Linked DNA regions of Homo sapiens: region 1 is linked to region 2. Evidence: fine-mapped expression QTL. Tissue or cell type: whole blood. Region 2 holds a variant in brackets; the other region holds the start of a gene. All regions are shown on one strand. Distances are from middle to middle.

Region 1 (8,177 bases), 35 kb after region 2:
GCCGGGCGTGGTGGTATGCACCTGTAATCCCAGCTACTTGGGAGGCTGAGGCAGGAGAATCGCTTGAATCCGGGAGGCGGAGGTTGCAATGAGCCGAGATCACACCATTGCACTCCAGCCTGGGGGACAAGAGCGAGACTTCATCTAAAAAAAAAAAAAAAAAAAAAAACCACCCTTTTAGGTGTATAGTTCTATGAGTTTTGACAGATTCACAGAGTCATCCAGTAATGTAAATACCACAATCAAGTTAGAGAATATTCTCATCATCTCAAAAAGTGTGATCAGTCCACCCTTCCCCAGCTCCAGTTGCCAGTAACCATTGATCTAATTTCTGTCCCTATACTTTAATTTTTTACTTTGAAATAATCATTTACCCATAGGTAGTTGCAAAGAGGGCCCAGGTACACTTTCTCAAATGGGAACATCTTACAAAGCTATGGAAAAATATCAAAAGCCAGGAAACTGACATTGGTACAATACTATCAAGTAGACTACAGACCTTATTCAGATTTCACCAGTGCTTACATCCATTAGCTTATTTGAAAAAACATAATTGGGCCATAGTATGAAAGAAGGGTCAGCCTAGCAAAAACACGCATTAGTTACAGTTGTCCACAGAAGAAAGGAGAACTCAGGAGGGTGCAGAGAGAGGAAGGGACTGGAGGAAAACATTTCTGGAGTGGAACAAAAATCATTTGGTAGACAATTTGGTATAAGGATTTAAATTAATCCTTCTTGATCTTCTTTTCTTTTTTGAGACAGAGTGTCACACTGTCACTCAGACTAGGATGTGGTGGTACAATCACGGCTCACTGCAGACTCGACCTCCTGGGCTCAAGCAATCCTCCCACCTCAGCCTCCTGAGTATTTGGGACCAAAGGCGGATGCCACCACGCCCAGCTAATTTTTTTTTTTTTTTTGAGACGGAGTCTCACTCTGTCATCCAGGCTGGAATGCTCCCAGGTTCAAGCAGTTCTCTGCCTCAGCCTCCCAAGTAGCTGGGATTACAGGCGCGTGCCACCACATCAGGCTAATTTTTGTATTTTTAGTAGAGATGGGGTTTCACCATCTTGGCCAGGCTGATCTTGAACTCCTGACCTCGTGATCCACCTGCCTCGGCCTCCCAAAGTGCTGGGATTACAGGTATGAGCCACTGCTCCTGGCCGCTAATTTTTATATTTTCCGTAGAGATAGGGTTTCGCCCAGGCTGGAAATTAATCCTTTTTTTGGAAATGAAATTTCCCATATGGCAGGGCAGCAAGCAAAAGGTTGTTTTAAATTGAACAGCCTGACCGCTAAGTGAATGAAGGTCATGAAAACCCCAAATAACCATAATATTTCTGCTTACTCTTATTTAAAGAGGAAAAAAAATGGTTTAGTTACTCTCTCCTTACTCTTGCCTGACTGAAAAAAATGAAGTAACTGTCGAAAACAAAGTTATCTGTTTAGTTAGCTAACCCTCTGCAAAACCAAGCAAATGAAATCTCTATATTTACTCTTAGTCCCTCCTGCAGTTCAGTACTGTTGTAGGCTTTCCTATCTGCTCCACCATTTTATCAGACTACAGCACTGATAATGCCTTAATCTCTATACAATTTATTTATAGACATCACTTACCCATCAGGAGACAATGGGATCAGCGTTGTTCTCCCCATTTTTACAGCCCAAGAAATTGAGGCTCCTGATACCCAGGATCACATATGCCAACACCGTAAAATGCTCAGAAAGGCATCGACACAGAGCTTTACTTAATACCCTTCTTTCTACTCCACCACACCCCATTTACGGCCAGGTTGGATCTCTTTCTACAAGAGAAATGGAATAAATTTGTGCAGGAGCTCCATACAGGCAATAAAAATATCTCTGGTGACAAAGTCCTCATTTAAACTCCAGTTTGTTTATCACTAGTTACTACCAAATACAGTCCCTTGGGAGTTCTGAGTGACCCAAAACCTACTTCCTGGACTTCAAGATGAGCTTTTAGTTTCTTTGAAATCAGGAAGTGTCTTAAAACCAGATTCAATGAAATACGGTAACAATCTTTTTACTGTGTCCTGTGCTAGGTATTTTATATGCATTTTAGCACTTAACCTCCAAACCTCTTATTATTAAACCTCTGTTGTTACGTCCATTTTAAAGATAGAAAAGTCAGGGCACAGAGAGGTTTAGAGATCACACAGCCAGCAAATGGTGGACAGTATAAGAGTAACCTCAAAGCAAGCAGTACCCCAGATTCCAATTTCAGTTGACTTAGCCTGGTAACAGTTCAATTTTATGCAAAACCCACAACTTCAAATGGAAAAAGATAAATTAAAACAACCACAAAAACCAGACAAATGGAGGCTCAGCAGGCCTTGTAGCTCATCCACGGTTACACAGAGGATCTCAGAGCCAAAATTCCATGGCCGATCCGTCTTGACTTCAAAGCGCGATCTATTTCCACCAAACCACGGAACCATCGACACGTGGTAAGGGGCAGTACAAAGATTTGTTGAATTAATAATGCCTGAAAACAAATTGACAATAAGAAGGTAAAAATGGAAAACACAGATAAAATCGGAAAAGCAGACCACTTTCAGGAAACAAAAAACTCCAAATTTTCAAGGCAGGGCATTCACGGTGAGCCAAGGCGCTGGGACAAAGTTTGCGCGGGTACCGCCGGACTCCCGGGCTGCCCGGCGCGGAGTCTTTAACGGAGATGGTTCGCAAGGAATCGGCCTCGGAGCCCGGCAGCCTCCTGGCTTCCCTCCTGACCACCAGTAACCCGGCCGGGAAACACTGGCGAAGACCGGGGGCCAGTCGCCTTCCCTTTCTGGGCTGTTGGCTTAAAATACACACAAACACAAGTCCCCAGGCGGTCCGCGGCCTCTCAGTGGGGCTGGAGCTCGCTGCCCGAGGCCCGCCCGGAAGCCATGCACCTGCGGACAGGAGTCTCTCCGAGTCGCAGCTCGCCGCCGAGAAGCACCCACCTCCCGCGGCCGGCGCAGCCCAAGGCCCTGGCCCCTATAGCCCGGCCTAGGCCCGCCCCAGGCGGGGCTAGGGGCGGCGTGGCGGGCGGGCGCCCCTCGGGCCGCGCCGGTGAGCAGCGGGAGCCGGCGCCGGGCATTTCCTCTTCCTCCCTACGCGCGGCGCGGCGGCGGCGGCGGCGGCCAGGCCGAGGCTGGGCACGGGCGCCCGATCGCGGCCTGCTGGCTAGCGCGGGCAAGCGCCGCGCCCCGAGCCGCCGTCGCCGCGTCGCCCCCGTCGCGACCGCCGGCCGCGGGGCCTCCGGGCGGCTGGGCCCGGCGAGGGCAGCGAGAGGCGGGGCTGGCGTGCGGGCGGCGGAAGGAGGCGGAGGAGGAGGAAGAGGAGGAGGAGGAGGCGGCGGCCGGGAGCCGGGGGAGAGGGGCGGGGGGTGGGCCGGGGGAGGGGAGGAGCGGGATTTGCGGAGCGCCGCGCCGCTGCCGGGAGCCGGCAGGCCCGAGAGTGACCGGAGTCACGGCGGGCGCCGGCGGAGCTGCGGCGTCGGACCCGCCTCCTGGAGGAGCTCAGCCCCGACCAGGCCCGGCCCCATTCCCGCCCCGCGCCGCCTCCCCGCCGCCGCCGCCGCCGCCGCCGCGGGAGCGCTCCCCTGCCCACCCCGCCCCCGCGGCCGAGCCCGGGAGTCGAGTGGGAGTCGGCCGGCCGGCGCGGGCAGCGCCGGGACCCCGCGGGGGACACTGCAGCCGGAGCCCGGGAGGGGCCGCGCCGCCACCGTCTGAACTAGGATGTCCCGACATGAAGGTGAGAGGAGCCCCCGCCCCCACCCGCACCTCCCGGGCCTCGGCCTACCCCGCCCGGGCCGGGCGCGGCGGAGGGCGGCCGGGAAGCGGCGGAGACTTTGGCCGAGCCCGAGCCGGGCCCGAGGCGCTGGACCCGGGAGCGAGCGAGCGAGGGCGGAGAGCCGCGGCGCCGCTGCCGCCACGGCCGCGGCCCTTAGCTGGGCCTGGTGCTGGAGGCGGGGCGGCCCGGGCGGCCGGAGGGTTTGCACTGTCATGGGGCGGAGGGGGAGGGGAGGCGGCGGGGCCCGTTACCGGCGGGAGCTCGGCCTTCGGGACTGATACCGGACGCCAAGGCCCGCCCGGCCGGTTCAGGAGCCGCGGGCCCCAGCGCGGCCTAGCGCTCCCGCCGCCCCGGAAGAGCCCGGTGTGGTCGCAGAGCCGGGCCGCGGGCGGCAGCAGGAGGCAAAAGAGCCGGCCCGGGACCCGGCAGGCGCGTCCGGTCGCCGGGAGACGACGGCGAGTGTCCCCGCCTGCGGGCGACCGCGGGGCTGGCGGGAAGGCTCTGCGGCCAAGGGACGGGAAGCCCTCGCCGCCTGGAGCCCGCCCCGGCCTCGCGGCTAGGCCTCGGCGCGTCCCTGGGCTCGGGTAACCAAGTTCCCGGGGTGGATCCGACCCCGCCGCAGCAAGCAAACTCCCTGCTCAGTCACCCAGGCGGAGCAGGGCTCGCTCCCCGCGGCCCTGGTGCCCTCGCCGGCATGTGCTGCCTACCAGACCAGGTTTTGGAAAATGACGATGGTGAGGTCTGTTCATGGTCGGGGGTCGTTTTGGACCTTGTTTTGCCATTTTAAAACACGATTGGAGTACAGTTGCAAATAAGCAGACAGCTCTAAGCCCAGTCCCAGGGCACAAAGAGACAAATGTTTAGGGTCGATGTATAGGCTTTGAGCTGGTAAGAAATAAGTTAACTTTAATTTATTGCCATATGGTTTAGAAAAGGAGGAGGGGGTTGTGTTTTCTTTGTTTCACTACTACAGGTTTTTGGATAAAAAGTGTTAAGAGTCTTGGCGAAAAGTTTGTCCTGCTAAGGTTAATACAAGATTGTAGAAGTGGCTTGAAAGTTTGTGTACTCCGGATTTTAAAATCCTGTATAGGTGATGTAGGAGTGGAGAAAGTTTAGTGAGTCAGTTTAGTGTGTGCTTAGCACTATGGGAAGGATATTCTTTGGGAAATACGGACCTTAGAATTTCAAGGCTGAAAAACTCAGATTGATTAAAATTGTATTTAGAACAAGTTTCAAAATTCGCATTACTAATTGCGACGTTGAAATTGACTCAACATTCTGTGTTCAACGATTCTGTATTTTAAAAGTTACAAAACTAATATGAAATATACTATATTTTCTTCGCAAAGCATTTGTTGAGTACTTACAGTGTTCAAGTGTTGGGCATTTTGAAATAATGAGGTACCTAGCCTCATTGAAAGGGACACAGAAGTAGGAAGCTATGCCTCTTTTCCCCACTTCGTCTGCTTAATCGAAATGTATCCTTATCTCTGTAATTTTAAGAACTCGTAATTAAAGTTATAATCAGTTTTCAATTTGGGATATTAAAGTTTATCTTAAACTGTAGTCCTGTGTACATTGACCACCTTCAAGACAAAACAAAAGTGAGCAATGGCTGCAAGCTCTCTTACTCTTGAAAACTGGGAGGGTTAGTTAGAGAATCACAGCCATGGAAGAGTGTTTCAGACCCATTCTCCTTGGTCTAAGAAAGCATACAGATAGTTCCAGACGAGCATTCTAATTGAAGTGTCCTGGGAAGAAAATTCCTTCACCCCCAGTGCTCTGTTAGAGTAATTAAAATCTCATATTTGGAACATTCTTGAATGTAACATATATTCTGTAATTTAAGCCCATTTCCCCCCATTTGGTGCTGTGCAAAGGTGTGTGGTTATGAAACTTATATTACCTTTTAGTTACTTGAATATTGCTGAACCTCAGCACACTAGTAGCACACCTTTCCTAGTAACTTATGTTAATGTCAGTAAATAGAACATACCTAATGAAAAAGGAACATACCTAAATACATCTGTTGAAGACTTATAGTACAATATTCGACAAGTGATTCTCTTTCAAGGGTCTAGTTTATGGCCTAAGACAGGAATAGCAGTCTCACGAATCACATTTAACTCATTAGATACATATTTTGTGGAATATTAGTTCAGACTGTCATTATTGTCATCAGTAAGACTTTGACCTATCAGTAAATACAGTGTTTGGCACCCTTGCTATTAGTTCTTTTCTTACCTTTGCCTTTTTTGGGCCAAAGAATCCCATTTCTTTCAGCATTTCTTTCTTTCTTTCTTTTTCTTTATTTCTTTCTTTTTTTTTTTTTTTTTTTTTTAGCTGGAGTCTCACTCTGTCACCAGGTTGGAGTGCAGTGGCGTGATCTCGGCTCACTGCAACTTCCACCTCCCAGATTCAAGCAGTTCTCCTGCCTCAGCCTCCCAAGTAGCTGGGATTACAGGCGCCTGCCACCACACCCATCCAATTTTTGTATTTTTAGTAGAGATCGGGTTTCATCATGTTGGTCAGGCTGGTCTTGAACTCCTGACCTCAGGTGATCCACCCGCCTTGGCCTCCCAAAGTGCTGGGATTACAGGCGTGAGCCACCACGCCCAGCCTCCGTGTTTCTTTAGTGGTGTAATTTTTGCACTCTCAGTCATCTGTCCACCTCCAAATTCTCTGTAGTTCTCATTTCCTTTCAGTAGTGTGATCCTGAACTGGATATAATAGTCTGGTAAAAGGTTTGAACAAGCCTATCATGTTGTACTTGCTTGGTGCTTCCTTTTCAGGGCCTTATGTGTGCAGGTAATATGTTACTTTGTCTTTGTACCCACCCTAATGAATTACACTAAATCCTATGATTTTATTAATGTAACTTTGGATGACACAGTCCTGAGATGGACACCTGTCAAGCTTGAAGGCTCAACCTTGTGAAGCAGTGCCTCTGAGAAAGGCAATGCAACCAGGAGCATAGAGAGATGCTCTAGTCCCGGGTTCAGCATGCTTCTTCTGTAAAGGGCTAGGTGGCAAACATTGCAGGCTTGGCGGAGCTGTAATAGTACGAAAGCAGCTATAGACAACCTGTAATTGAAAGATCATGGCTCTGTTCCAATTAAAACTTTATTTGTGGACACTGACATTTTAATTTCATATATATATATATATATATATATATATATATATTTTTTTTTTTTTTTTTTTTTTTTTTTTTTTTGAGACACAGTCTTGCTCTGTTGCCCAGGCTAGGGTGCAGTGGCGTGATCTTGGCTCACTGCAACCTGCACCTCCCGGGTTCAAGTGATTCTCCTGCCTCAGCCTCCCGCGTAGCTGGGATTGCAGGCGCCCACCACTGCGCCCGGCTAATTTTTGTATTTCGTTTAGTAGAGATGGGGTTTCACCATGTTGGCCAGGGTGGTCTCAAACTCCTGACCTCGTGATCCGCCGGCCTCGGCCTCCCAAAGTGGTGGGATTACAGGCGTAAGCCACCGCACCTGGCCGAATTTCATATAATTTTCATGTGTCATGAAATATGATTTGTCATTTGACACCCCCACCATTCAAAAATACAAATAACCATTCTTAACTTTCGGGCTATATAAAAGCTGGTGGTGGACCGGCCGTGGTGGCTCACGCTGAGGCAGAGAATTGCTTGAACCCAGGAGGTGGAGGTTGCAGTGAGCTGAGGTCGTGCCACTGCACTCCAGCCTGGGCGACAGAGTGAGAATCCATCTCCAAAAAAAAAAGTGGTGGTTGGATTTGGCCTGAGGGCTGTAGTTTGCCTTACTTTACCTCTGCCCTAGACTGGCGCTTTAGAGAGTTGATAGAGCTTGAACTATCAAGAGTCTAGAAGGGGCCCAGTCAGCTTGGGATTCCGTCATTTTCTTTGGGTGATGGGAAATGAGTTCACAGACTGAACCAGCTCCTCCGTACTTCACTTTTCAGCAGCACCATGAGGAATGGAAATAATTGTTCCTCAGGAGTGGACAACAGGCTCCCCACCCTACAGACCCTTAGTGGAGATGGCAGTACCCTACATTTTTCCTGCTTGCCCGTTAATACTTTTCCAGTGAGAATTGTAGGGCCACTTTTAACTCACTTTGTGGTGTTCTTGTCATGTTAACATTTTATAGACTTTAGCACCCACTTTGTGTTCACCCTGCCAACACTGTCTAGTTCACAGTGAACCCAATCATTTTTTATCTTGATGTATTTTTTAAAATGTCTCACTATCATACTTTCAAATACATTTAAAATGTAAGTATGTTATTCAGAGCTTAAAATCTACTTTTAAAGCTTTCCAAATAAAAAAAAGCAACTTAACAAATTGCTCGCTGCTTATTAGCTAAAATGAAATCATGAATGTTCTTGCATAG
Region 2 (8,177 bases):
GTGGGAAACTTCCTCAAGTTGATAAAATCTACCAAAAAAACCAGTTAACATCATACATAGTGGTAACAAGCTACATGCTTTCCCCCTAAATTCAAGAACAAGAAAATTACATCCACTCTCAACACTCCTATTAAACATCACACTGAAAATCCTAACTTATGCAATAAAATATGAAGACAAAAAAAATTTTAAAGGCCAGGTGCAGGTGGTTCATGCCTTTCATCCCAGCACTTTGGGAGGTCGAGGTGGGAGGATCTTTTGAGCCCAGGAGTTCAAAAACAGCCAGGGCAACATACTGAGACCCTGTCTCTATGAAAACAGAAAAATGATCTGGGCATGGTGGTGTGCACCTGTAGTCCCAGTTACTTGGGAGGCTGATGTGGGAGGATCCCTTGAACCTGGGAAGCAGAGGTTGCAGTGGGATCAAGCCACTGCACTCCAGCCTGGGCAACAGAGCAAGACTGTGACTCAAAAAAAAAAAAAAGAAAGAAAAAAAGAAAAGAAACATTAGCTGGGCATGATGGTGTGCACCTATAGTCCCAGCTACTGGAAAGGCAGAAGTGGGAGGATTACTTGATGCCAGGAAGTCAAGGCTGCAGTGAGCCATGATCATGCCACTGCACTCCGGCCTGGGTGACAGAGCAAGACCCTGTCAAATAAAATAAATAAATAAATAAATAAAAAGAAGAAGAAGTAGGGGGCAGGTATAAGCGTTGGTAAGGAAAAAAAACCTGTCTTTCCTCACAGATGGCATTAATGTCTCTGTGCCCAAAAAATCAACAAGAACCTTCTAATGCTAATAAGCCTTATAGCAAGGTTGCAGAATCCATTGGTCACAGGGCCAATATGCAACAGTCAATTGCTTTCCTAAACACTAGCATGAACCATTGCAATTTGAAATTTATTTTTATTTTTTACTTATTTACTTTTTGAGACAGAGTCTCACTCTGTCACCCATGCTGGAGCACAGTAGCCCAATCTGGGCTGAATGCAACCTCCACCTCCTGGGTTCAACCGATTCTCATGCCTCAGCCTCCAGGTAGCTGGGACTACAGGTGCCCACCACCACACCCAGCTAATTTTTTGTATTTTTAGTAAAGATGGAGTTTCACCATGTTGGCCAGGCTGGTCTCGAACTCCTGACCTCAGGTGATCTGCCCACCCTGGCTTCCCAAAGTGCTGGGATTACAGGCGTGAGCCACAGTACCCGGCCACAGTTTGAAATTTAAAACACAATACAATTTATATTAACACCAAAATAGAAGAAAGAAATATTTTGGAATAAACCTATAAAAATAAAAGGAGAAATATTCCATGTTCACGAATGAGAAGTTTCAATATTATTAAGATGACAATTCTGCCCAACCTGATCTGTAGACTCAAGGCCATCCCAATTAAAAAAAACAAAAAGGCTGGCAAGTTATTTTGTGGATCTCTACAAACTGATTCTAAAGTTTACATGGAAAGGCAAAAGACCCAGAATAACCAACACAATACTGAAGAGAAAGAACAAAGTCAGAGGTCTGACACTATTCAATTTCAAGACTTACTATAAAGCTACAATAATCAAGGCAGTATGGTATTTGCAAAAGAATAGACAAATAAATTAATGGAACAGAATACAGAGCCTTGAAATAGATACACACAAATACAGCCATCTGATCCTTGACAAAGGAGCAACGGCAATACATTGAGAAAAGACAGTCTTTTTAACAAAGAGTTAGGAACAATTAGATGTACATAGGCAAAAAAAAAAAAAAAGAGAGAGAGAGAGAGAATCTAGGTCAGGCACGGAGGCTCATGCCTGTAATCCTAGCACTTTGGGAGGCTGAGGCAGGCAGATCACCTGAGGTAGGGAGTTCAAGACCAGCCTGACCAACATGGAGAAACCCCGTCTCTACTAAAAATGCAAAATTAGCCAGGTGTGGTGGCACATGCCTGTAAACCCAGCGACTCGGGAGGCTGAGGCAGGAGAATTGCTTCAACCTGGGAAGCAGAGGTTGTAGTGAACCAAAATCGCACCATTGCACTCCAGCCTGGGTGACAAGTGAAACTCCATCTCAATTAAAAAAAAAAAAAAAAAAGGAATCTAAACACAGGCCTTACACCTTTCACAAAAATTAACTCAAAATGGATCATAGACCTAAATGGAAAATGGAAAACTATGAAACTTCTAGAAGATAACAAGCCAGGTATAGTGGCTCACACCTGTAATCCCAGCATTTTGGGAGGCTAATGCAGGCAGATTGCTTGAGCTCAGGAGTTCGAGACCAGCCTAGGCAAAACCCCACCTCTACAAAAAATACAAAACTTAGCCAGGTGTAGTGGCACGTGCCTGTAGTCCCAGCTACTCAAGAGGCTGAGGCAGGAGGATACCGTGACTCTGGGAGGTTGAAGCTGCTGTGAGCTAAGATCGTCCCACTGCACTCTAGCCTGAGCAACAGAGCACGACCCTGTCACAAAAAAGAAGAAAAAAAGTCAACTTTAATTTAAACTATGGACCTTAGCTAATAATGTGTTCATATTGGCTTATTAATTGTAATTAATGTACCACACTAATGCAAGATGTTAATAATAGGAGAAACAGTGAGAGGAAAATATATGGGAACTTCCTTTACTATCTGTTCAATTTTTCTATAAATTTTCTATAAATTCAATTTTCTATAAAGGTGGGCTGGGCACGGTGGCTCATGCCTGTAATCCCAGCACTTAGGGAGGTCAAGGCAGGCGGATCACCTGAGGTCAGGAGTTCAAGACCAGCCTGGCCAACATGGTGAAACCCTGTCTCTACTGAAAATACAAAAATTAGCTGGGCATGGTGGTGCACACCTGTAGTCTCAGCTACTCAGGAGGCTGATGCAGGAGAATTGCTTGAACCTGGGAGGTGGAGGTTGCCGTGAGCCCAGATTGCACCACTGCACTCCAGCCTGGGCGACAGGGTGCGACTCCATCTCAAAAAAAATTAAAATAAAAATAAAGGTGTTCTAAAAGTAGTCTTTTTTTTTTCTTTTTAAAAATATTATGCTTAGGCTAGGTGCAGTGGCTCACGCCTGTAATCCCAGCACTTTGGGAGGCCAAAGCGGGCGGATCACCTGAGGTTGGGAGTTCGAGACCATCCTCACCAACATGGAGAAACCCTGTCTCTACTAAAAATACAAAATCAGCCAGGCATGGTGGCACATGCCTGTAATCCCAGCTACTCGGGAGGCTGAGGCAGGAGAATCGCTTGAACCTGGGAAGCAGAGGTTGCGATGAGCCAAAATTGCACCATTGCACTCCAGCCTGGGTGACAAGAGCGAAACTCCATCTATAAACAAATAAATAAATAGTATCCTTAAACCGATGAATAATATTTTGATGTAAGTGTTTATATGTGTTTTTCCCTGGTATTTTCTGCTACCCCATGATCTTCCCTACCCAGGCAGTTATATCAAGAGTCCCCTCTTGACTCATGGATGGGTGATTACAGAGGATCAGAGATCAAAAATGTCTGAGGCTTAACCAGAATTGGTGGTGCGTGCCTGTAGTCACAGCTACTCTGGAGGCTGAGGCGGGAAGATTGCATGAGCCCAGGAGTTTGAGACCAGTCTCGTCAACACAGTGAGACCCCCATCTCAAAAAACAAAACAGGCCAGGTGGGGTGGCTCATGCTTGTAATCCCAGCACTCTGGGAGGCTGAGGCGGGTGGATCATTTGAGGCCAAGAGTTCGATACCAGCTTGGCCAACATGGTGAAACCCCATCTCTACTAAAAATACAAAAATTAGCTGGGTGTGATGGCGCGCTACCTGCAATCCCAGCTACTCAGGAGACTGAGGCACAAGAATCACTTAAATCCAGGGGGTGGAGGTTGCATTGAACCAAGATGATGCCACTGTGCTCCAGCGTGGGCAACAGAGAAAGACTCTATCTCAAAAAAAAAAAAAAAGTCTGGGCGTGGTGACTCATGCCTATAATCCCAGCACTTTGGGAGGCTGAGGTGGGAGGATCACTTGAGCCCAGGAGTTCAAGACCAGTTTGGGCAACATAGGGAGATCCTATCTCTATAAAAAATGAAAAAATTCACCGGCTGTGATCGTATGCGCCTGTGGTCCCAGCTACTCAGGAAACTGAAATGGGAGGATCGCCTGAACTCAGGAGGTAGAAGCTGCAGTGAGCTGTGGTCACACCACTGCACTCTAGCCTGGGTAACAGAGTGAGACCCTGTCTCAAAAGACAAACAAAATGCCTGAGTCTTGACGTTGAGACTTCCAAAATCTAAAAATGATTTAGAAGATACTCATTCAGACTGGGTAGTTTTCCTTTTGGGGAGGAAGAAAAAAAGATGTCCTGGGCTAGGCCGGGCGTGGTGGCTGTAACCCCAGCACTTTGGGAAGCCAAGGCAGGTGGATCACGAGGTCAGGAGTTGGAGACCAGCCTGGCCAACATGGTGAAACCCCATCTCTACTAAAAATACACAAATTAGCCAGATGTGGTGGCATGTGCCTGTAGTCCCAGCTACTCGGGAGGCTGAGGCAGGAGAATCGCTTGAACCTGGGAGGTGGAGGTTGCAGTGAGCCGAGATTAAGCCATTGCACTCCAGTCTGGGCAACAAAAACGAAACTCCATCTCGAAAAAAAAAAAACAGATGACCTTAATTTCAATGTGCAATGTCCAGTAGTCTTCCATGTTGTTTTCAGTACAACCTCTTCAACTTGCGTATAAAAGGAGGTTAGACAAGACACATCTGCTGGTCTAATCTCCATCTTGATCTGGAAAGGGTTTATGGTGGTTTACAAGTTTATAACAAGACAGAAATTAAAACGGAGGCAAAAGGGCTTGGGCCCAGTGGCTCACACCTATAATCTC[G/C]GCACTTTGGGGGTGCTGAGGTGGGTAGATCACCTGAGGTCAGCAGTTCAAGACTAGCTTGGCCAACATGGTAAAACTCCATCTCTACAAAAATACAAAAATTAGCCTGGCGTGGTGGTGGGTGCCTGTAATCGTACCTACTCGGGAGGCCAAGGCAGGAGAATCACTTGAACCTGGGAGGCAGAGGTTGCAGTGAGCTGAGATTGCGCCATTGTCCTCCAGTCTGGGCAACAGAGCAAGACTCAGTAAAAAAAGGAAAAAAAAAAAAACTGAGACAAAAGTAAAGAAAAAGTCAAGCCAGGAATAGGGATTAAAAATTCAGAGCTTAGGCTGGGTGCAGTGGCTCACGCCTGTAATCTCAGCACTTTGGGAGGTCCAGGCGGGCAGATCACGAGGTCAGGAGTTCGAGACCAGCCTGGCCAACATGGTGAAACCCCGTCTCTACTAAAAATACAAAAATTAGCTGGGCGCAGTGGCCTGTGCTTGTAGTCCCAGCCACTCGGGAGGCTGAGGTAGGAGAATCGCTTGAACCCAGGAGGAGGAGGCTGTGCAGTGAGCCAAGATCACACCACTGCACTCCAGCCTGAGTGACAGACTCCGTCTCAAAAAAAAAAAAAAAAAAAATTTAGAGTTTAGCCAGACACAGTGGCTCACACCTGTAATCCCAGCATTTTGGGAGGCTGAGGCCGGTAGATCGCCTGAAGTCAGGAGTTCGAGAACAGCCTGGGCAACATAGTGTAACCCCATCTCTACTAAAAATACAAAAAATTAGCTGGGCGTGGTGGTGGGCCCCTGTAATCCCAGCTACTTGGGAGGCTGAGGGAGGAAAATCACTTGAACCCGGGAGGCAGAGGTTGCAGTGAGCCGAGATCGCACCATTGCACTCCAGCCTGGGCAACAAGAGTGAAACTCCATCTCAAAAAGAAAAAAGAAAAAAAGAAAAAAAAAATTCAGAGCTTAAAGAATTCAATGCTTGCCAGAGCTGGGCCGTATATTTGACTCAAAGTTTCCTAGCAGCCTGTGTGAAAAGGGAAATCTGATTAGTTATGCAGTTTACAATAACTATGTGATAAAGGCAAACTCTTGGCCGGGCATGGTGACTCACACCTGTAATCCCAGCACTTTGGGAGGTCCATGTGAGAGTCCAAGAGTTCAAGACCAGCTTGGGCAACATAGTAAGACCCCACCTCTACAAAAAATTTTAAAAATTAGCAGGGTGTGGTGGCACACGCCTGTGGTCAGCTACTCAGGAGGCTGAAGTGGGAGGATGCCTCATGAGCTGTGGTCACACCACTGCACTCCAGCCTGGGAGACAGAATGAGACCCTGTCTCAAAGAAAAAAAAAAAAAGGCACACTCCTGAATCTAAAGAAGTACAACTCTTTTTTATATAAGACCAGAAAAAAAATAATAAAACTCTATCCTGGAGTTTCTTATAAAGATGACACGTGTGATTTATTACTCATTTAAAAAGTGAAACCAGAGGAGAAACATCCTGAGGTAAGACTTTAACTGAACCCTTATGTGGTATAACAGACCTTATTTTTCATTTCATCACGCTACATGCTAAGTTAGAAACAAGTTCCCATGCATGTTAGGGTACATTTATATTTATGCCACAGTGTCAGAGTCTACACAGTTATTTTTTTCTTTTTTTTTTTTTTTTTTTGAGACGGAGTTTCACTCTTGTTGCCCAGGCTGGAGTGCAATGGCACAATCTCGGCTCACTGTAACCTCCTCCTCCCGGGTTCAAGCAATTCTTTTGCCTCAGCCTACTGAGTAGGGATGCCCGCCACCATGCCCAGCTAATTTTTGCATTTTTAGTAGAGATGGGGGTTTCACCGTGTTAGCCAGGCTGGTCTCAAACTCCTGACCTCAGGTGATCCGCCCACCTCGGCCTCCCAAAGTGCTGGGATTACAGGCATGAGCCACCTCACCCAGCCGTGTCCACAGTTTTCTAGTTTGCTGAGCTGCGGACCCACCAGCAGGTCTGCAGGGAAGGGATGTTCCTGGTAGAGCTCCTTAGGCCTCCCTCAGATCCATGGGATGCACTGGGACTGTTCCTTTAGCTACACAGATACATGACCATGTTCATCCTCTGCAGTTATTTAGTTATTACCCCAATCTTTCAGTGAAGTCTCTGCTAGACAAATGGAGTTGTAAGGTGACCTTGGTGTGACGGCAGGGGTAGTGATTATGATGGTGGTGATGTGAAAGGGTAGTGGTGAAAGTGAAGGGGATGAGGGTAGGGGTGGGGGGTGGTTACTTAAGGCTGCAGTCTGCAGTCTACTGCCGTGGCTGCTGAGAACAGTCTCTATTTGTCTGCCGTCAGTCTATCCAGATCCTTCTACCTGGGGGAAGATCTGGACTGGCCAAGCCTGGTCACATGGCAGCAACCAGGTTGCAACCAACAAAATTTCCTCTCTGGAGGGAAAATTAATCTAGATTTAGAAACTGCCAAGAGCTGGGTTTCTCAAGCCACCTTGGCCTTGAACTTCCTCCAAGGGCGGTCATCAGCAAGGGTGTAAGAGGTACTTGGGAGCCTGCAGTTGGTGGAGCTGAGATGGGTGTGGAGACCCCGCCTTTGTGATGGCCTGCAGGTTTCAGTTTTAAGCACGTGGCTTTAAAGGGGACTTTCCCCACCAGAGGAGGAAGAACTGACAATTGGAACAGCCCCTGAGCTTAACAAACTTTGCTGAAAGCAGCTACAATTGTCAAGCAATAAAGACTGAGATGGTAGAGTGTCCACACAGCTGCCGGCCGCTAGAGCCAAGACTGAAATCCAGAACCTTAGCCTGACCAAACCGGGAGTTCGTGAAAGCACAAAGCCTTCTGTGGGAAGGAGAAGGGAAATGAAAGCTAATATTAGGCTAAGCAGTTGTTGATAACGTTAAAAGTTTATGCCAAGTCAATGTGAAGAAAGAAATGACCAAAGATGGGCTTTCTGGTGGAGGAGATAAAGGATCATTGAGATGAAATGAGACCAGCATACCTTCCCTGAGATGCAAATTGCCCTCACCCCCCAATCTCAGCTAGGGAGACTGGGGGAGGGAGCTCTTTAAAAAATCAGGCCAGGCACAGTGGCTTGCTCCTGTAATCTCAGCACTTTGGGAGGCCTAGGTGGGCGGATCACTTGAAGTTAGGAGTTTGAGACCAGCCTGGCCAACATGGTGAAACCCTGTCTCTACTAAGAATACAAAAATTAGCAGGGTGTGGTGGCGCATACCTGAAATCCCAGCCTGTGCAACATGGCGAAACCCCGTCTCTACTAAAAATAGAAAAATTAGCCAGGCACCTATAATCCCAGCTACTTGGGAGGCTGAGGCATAAG

What was found. PIP is the estimated chance that this variant, and not a neighbour inherited with it, causes the effect.
Region 1: KCMF1 starts here. The variant in region 2 is fine-mapped to the expression of KCMF1 in whole blood (TOPMed, PIP 0.97).

What each region holds. Positions count from the first base shown.
Region 1 is chr2:84,967,706-84,975,882 of GRCh38, forward strand. KCMF1 (potassium channel modulatory factor 1) reads left to right here and starts at 3,456. Exons shown (of 7, transcript NM_020122.5): 1 at 3,456-3,762. The coding sequence starts at 3,747. RefSeq lists enhancers at 2,383-2,462, 6,729-7,270, 7,271-7,812 and silencers at 2,961-3,210, 3,241-4,330.
Region 2 is chr2:84,932,374-84,940,550 of GRCh38, forward strand. No RefSeq gene overlaps it. Among named protein-coding and RNA genes, the nearest start is that of TMSB10, 31 kb to the left of the region's middle. RefSeq lists an enhancer at 7,136-7,645. The variant G/C (reference allele first, on the strand shown) is at 4,848.